2 separate regions of the Homo sapiens genome follow, and region 2 is linked to region 1. Evidence: fine-mapped expression QTL. A gene starts in region 1. The other region holds a variant in brackets. All regions are shown on one strand. Distances are between the middles of the regions.

Region 1 (2,915 bases):
GAGGTCAAGAGACTGAGACCAGCCTGGCCAACATGATGAAACCCTGTCTCTACTAAAAATACAAAAATTAGCTGGTCGTGGTGGTGCGCATCTGTAGTCCCAGCTACTCAGGAGCCTGAGGCACAAGAATCACTTGAACCTGGGAGGTGGAGGTTGCAGTGAGCCAAGATTGTGCCACTGCACTCAAGCCTGGTGACAGAGCGAGACTCCATCTCAAAAAAAAAAAAAAAAAAAAAAAAGTGGAATTTAGTTAAGTTTGGGAGACAGAAAGAAGCCACGGCTCTCCTGCCTTCTTCCAAATATACTGAACTTCTGATATGTTTGATCAAATGAAATGCTCATGGTCTGGCATGATTATAGGTGCAAGCCTGTAATCCCAGCTACTAGGGAGGCTGAGGCAGGAGGATGACCTGAGCCCAGGAGTTTGAGGCTACAGTGCACAATGATTGTGCCTGTGAATAGCCACTGCACTCCACCTTGGGTGATATAGTGAGACCCACATCTCTACACACACACACACACACACACACACACACACACACACGAAGAAGAACATAAACACATCAAATGTGAGCCATTTTGCTGACTTGGGCATACAATAAATCCATATCTCTGGGTTCTAAAGATGTACCAATCTTGCAGTGAGCTGAGATCACACTACTGCACTCCAGCCTGGTCAACACAGCAAGACTCTGTCTCAAAAAAAAAAAAAAAAATAGTAGACCAGGCGCAGTGGCACACTCCTGTAATCCCAGCACTTTGGGAGGCCAAGGCGGGCGGATCACTTGAAGCCAGGAGTTCAAGACCCACCTGGCCAACATGGCGAAACCCCGTCTCTACTAAAAATACAAAAATTCACCAGGTGTGGTGGTGCATTCCTGTAATTCCAGCTACTCAGGAGGCTGAGGCAGGAGAATCACTTGAACCCAGGAGGCTACGGTTGCAGTGAGCCAAGATTGTGCCACTGCACTCCGGCCTGGGCAACAGAGCGAGACTCCATCTCAATAAATAAATAAATAAATAAATAAATAAAATAAAGATGTGCCAATCAAACAAGTGTTTGCTCTGTAGATGAGGTGAGTGCTCCTGATCAGATAGTATATTCAATAAAATAAGCATGTCATCAAACTAACTTTCTTGGCCTTTGTTCTTTGGTTGAAAAACTCCCGTTGACCTCATGAATACCACATTTATTAACCCCGGAAGACAACAGATAGCTAATGCAACATAAATATCTGTGGCTTTAAAAATACATATTATTATGTGTGCAGTCTACAAACACTTTCCTGAAATTGGTCTTCTGTGGGCAGTGATTTAAACTTTTCAACTTGGACGCTTTTCCTACTGGGGGCTGTAAAGATGATAACTCAGCCCTTACTCTTCAGTGTTTCTCATTCCCGTCTCCCCTACTTCGGAATGAAACACAATATCTTAAGCAAACAGAGCCCAAAGAGGCTGATCATTGGCTCTCATTGTCCCCTGATACTGTAGCCCCGCCCCTTTGGCTTGTGCTGACTAGCTGTTTATATTTTAGTAAGGGCCACCCTTTAACTCGGCAGCTTGATGACTATAATGGGCCCAGTTGTCTGCGGGCTGCGGGGAGCTAAGTCCCCAGATTGGAGGAGGCTGGCTCTGGTCTTCGATGCACAGGAGTGGCCGTTATGGAACGCAGGTAAGGACGCTTCTCAATGTGGGATAATTCTTTTTCTGGGCCAGCTGGTTAATCCGGGGCTGGGAGAAACAAGTTGTGATTGGGTTGCTACTTTTTCCTGGTTTTAATTTTTTCCCTGCAGAAGAGGGAAGGAAAAGACTGGGATTTGCTGACAAAGCTCACAGTGAGCTCTGTTAATCCAGGCAGGAAGGGAGTAAGGAAGCAAAAAATCGAGGGAGAGACACAGCTGGATTTGACACCAAAGCAACATGAATGTGGCAAAGCATAAGGCCAGTTCCAGTGATGTTGTGAGACTCAAATGCTGTTTTATTTCCTAACATAGGTAGTCACAGTCAGGAGCTTAGCTGGGCCTCTCCGGGGTTTCTGTAAGCCAGCTGCTAGCCGATGTAACTCAGTCGACCCCATTTGAAAGGACCTAATATCTGCTAGTATTTTCAAAGGGCAAACTGTAGTAGTCTTGCATGTTATAAATAGGTCTATTCAGAAATGTGGGAACAGTTTAGAGCAGACAGGAGACTGTAAAGTTTTACTGCCCCATAAAAGTGCTCAAAGGGTACTATGTCCCTCTGCCGTGCGACTGTGGAATGAAGAAATAGCCCCAGGTGAATAGAGCGTTTGTCCTTGACTACCCAAGTGAGAAGTCAGCAGAGCCTGGGGACGCCATGTGAGTCGGGGGTGAAGCCTGATGTGGGCTCAGCCAGCCACACCTCGGGGTGCTTGCTGGTTTCCGGGGTGTGAATGGGTGAGGGTGGAAAACCACTCAGGCACCGGTCTTTGGTGCCTGCTTTATCTCTTGGCTGGCCCATTCGGTGCTCAGTGAGGCACCTGTCGTAGCTCACGGGGTGCGCAAAGGGCAAGGAAAGGGTTGTGCTGTCATTGCGACCTGTAAGGTGGGGAGGGGGCTACAACATCTCGAGTCCTGGGAGTTGCTTTAGAAAGTCCTCCTCCTCCTGCTGAAAAAAAGAATCACCTACGGCAGCTTTGATCAGATAAGTTTCTGGTGAGCCCCGTGGTGTGGAGTCAGTGAACTTGCGGTTTGTGTTTGTTATCGACAGGAGCCTGATAAAATGAAAAGGTGAGGTTTAATTTTTACATAAAGCTAGAGGTGAACCATGGGACTTTAATACATTTAATGCTTTGAAAGTCTCCCCACCTCTCCAAATTCCCTCAACTTGTATCTATTATCTAGGTACACCTTGTTTAAAGCCACCATGCTGTTTGCGGATCCTGGAGGTATTAAGTC
Region 2 (2,915 bases), 91 kb after region 1:
CTAGAATAGTGGTTCTCAGCCATTCGGCAATGCCTGGAGACATTTTTGGTATCACAACTGTGTGTTTTGGCAGGGGGTTGGGGAGAGGGAGGCAGGGCGGGGAGAGCTATTGGTATCTGGTAGAGGACAGGCTGCTGTTAAACATCATACAATGCACCAGACGGCCCCTGCAACGAAGAATTAACCTGGCCAGAATGGCTTTTCAGAGAGCTTCAAGTCTATACACTTAATTAATTATTAAAATTGGACAATTGATGGTAGATTGAAATTGACAATTTTGATTGTCTCTGAAGAGACAAAATCTCTTCTCTCTAAGGCAGTAATTATGTCATATCTTATTCTGTTCTCTGGTTATTGTTTTTTTAAAGATGATGAAAGGCATAGAATTTTTTTAAACAAAATGTAGTGTTTAGATAGATTTTGGAATATTTCTGGGTTGAGGTTAAATAACGACCTTTAACAACTGTCCACCAGGCTCCCAGAAATAGATTCTGCTCTTCAGTTCATCTCTGAAATCATTCATCAGTTAACCAACCAAAAGGCCAGCATCGTGGATGACATTCATTCCACCTTTGATGAGCTCCAGAAGACTTTAAATGTGCGCAAGAGTGTGCTGCTTATGGAATTGGAGGTCAACTATGGCCTCAAACACAAAGTAAGACCAGAATCATTACAGATGTCCTGGAAGAGACATGATATCCAAGGGCACTAGCTTATTGTTTCCTAATAGCAACAAGGGGTCCTTAAGTGTCATCATTGTATAGTAAACTATAGTTTTCACTGAATGTAATATCCAGCTATTTTTTCCCCTATTTTCAGCAAAATTCGATGACTCTGTGACTTTAAGTACTAGTTTATAATTTGACAAGAGGCAAGGTTGAATATAATGTAATGCTTTTAGCATTTAGAGTTAAACTGGATTGTTTTCATTCCTCAGTTATAACATGAAATAGTTTCTTAATTGCTCTCTCACCCACACCAACCTGTTAGTCAGCTTCAAAATGAACCCTGACTGCAGCCTTTGTTTAACTCTGCATGTCTGTTCACAAAACAGGGATGAGAAACCTCTGATGTTCAGGTGTGGAGAGTTTTCATTTGTTTACTTCCTGTTCCTTTAGGTGGTGATGGACATGGGGACATGGGGAAAGATACTGAATAATGAATATTTCAGATGTCAGGCATAGCAATTAATTTGCTATGCTCTTGGTAGTGACCTTTCTGTTTTCCCCTCTCCAAAACACATGAGCCAAGAAATACATGTGTGGAAGAGAGGGCGAGGCGGAAGGGAAACCTCGAAAAGGTACTGGGAATGCAGTTTAGGACTTTGCGTTAGCACTGGGTTCCCTGGGTTGACAAACACCGCTTGCTCAGAGCCACCTGCGTGGGCAGGTGTAGAGTCTCCTTCTCGCCGGTGGAGGGCACTGCCCCGGGCTAGGCCCCGCCCTGTGGGACGAGCTCACCAGGCCTCCGGTTTTCCCGCAGGTCCTCCAGTCGCAGCTGGATACTCTGCTCCAGGGGCAGGAGAGCATTAAGAGCTGCAGCAACTTCACAGCGCAGGCCCTCAACCATGGCACGGAGACCGAGGTCCTACTGGTGAAGAAGCAGATGAGCGAGAAGCTGAACGAGCTGGCCGACCAGGACTTCCCCTTGCACCCGCGGGAGAACGACCAGCTGGATTTCATCGTGGAAACCGAGGGGCTGAAGAAGTCCATCCACAACCTCGGGAC[G/A]ATCTTAACCACCAACGCCGTTGCCTCAGAGACAGTGGCCACGGGCGAGGGGCTGCGGCAGACCATCATCGGGCAGCCCATGTCCGTCACCATCACCACCAAGGACAAAGACGGTGAGCTGTGCAAAACCGGCAACGCCTACCTCACCGCCGAACTGAGCACCCCCGACGGGAGCGTGGCAGACGGGGAGATCCTGGACAACAAGAACGGCACCTATGAGTTTTTGTACACTGTCCAGAAGGAAGGGGACTTTACCCTGTCTCTGAGACTCTATGACCAGCACATCCGAGGCAGCCCGTTTAAGCTGAAAGTGATCCGATCCGCTGATGTGTCTCCCACCACAGAAGGCGTGAAGAGGCGCGTTAAGTCCCCGGGGAGCGGCCACGTCAAGCAGAAAGCTGTGAAAAGACCCGCAAGCATGTACAGCACTGGAAAACGAAAAGAGAATCCCATCGAAGACGATTTGATCTTTCGAGTGGGTAAGGAGAGGGCTTCTGTGCCCGACGCCTGAGCTGGCACTGGTTAAGGGGTAACTGGGCACGTGTCATTGCAAATAGCAACACTGCAGCCCAGAACTCTACCTGCAGGTGTTAGGAGATGTACTGCTATAAAATTTGATATATTTTGTTAGTCGAGCTTATGCAGTCTCCTCCAGAGATGGTATTTCCTTCTCCTCCGCCTCTAGTCTCCTCCCTACTCCCTCCTTTCTCTTCTTCCTCTTCCTTAAGACACAAGTGCTGCATATTCATTGTAGGAAATTACAAGCTGAAAATAAGCAAAAAGAGAAATAGAAAAATCATAGCACCCGTAATCTGAAAATCTTGAAGGAAAAATTGGCAATCCTCCCCCTAACCCCCACCACCAACGCCCCTCTTCCCTGGGAGGGTCTTCTTGTGCCAGAGCTGAGGCTGTACGGTTGGCAGAGCATGTGATGCCTCCCTGTCACTGCATCGGCATTGCAGGAGGGAGGGGATGTGTGCATTGCAAGTTGCAACCACCTCCAGCTGTGTGTAGCTGGAGAGCAGCCCCAAGGAGAGGAGGAGGGGTGGAAACTTGGAGAAAGAATGGGGTTGAGGCGGGGTTGGGGTGGAAGCAAGAAGGTACCCGATGAGCCAAGAGAGTTAGGAATGCAAATAGCCCTTCCCTCCTCTGATTTATGGTCTCTCTCTTTTTAAACTTTCTATGTTC

Direction of the effects. Alleles are on the strand shown, and positions count from the first base shown. SD is a standard deviation of normalised expression in the study named.
In carriers of allele A in region 2, the expression in spinal cord of the gene that starts at base 1,555 in region 1 tends to be lower than with G alone (small effect, 0.37 SD a copy in GTEx).

The links. PIP is the estimated chance that this variant, and not a neighbour inherited with it, causes the effect.
Region 2: its variant is fine-mapped to the expression of TRIM2 in spinal cord (GTEx, PIP above 0.99). The same link has a PIP of 0.9 or more in substantia nigra.

Annotation. Positions count from the first base shown.
Region 1 is chr4:153,202,889-153,205,803 of GRCh38, forward strand. TRIM2 (tripartite motif containing 2) reads left to right here and starts at 1,555. Exons shown (of 12, transcript NM_015271.5): 1 at 1,555-1,672. The coding sequence starts at 1,643.
Region 2 is chr4:153,293,831-153,296,745 of GRCh38, forward strand. TRIM2 (tripartite motif containing 2) reads left to right here. Exons shown (of 12, transcript NM_015271.5): 5 at 475-655; 6 at 1,483-2,206. Among named protein-coding and RNA genes, the nearest start is that of MND1, 49 kb to the right of the region's middle. The variant G/A (reference allele first, on the strand shown) is at 1,728.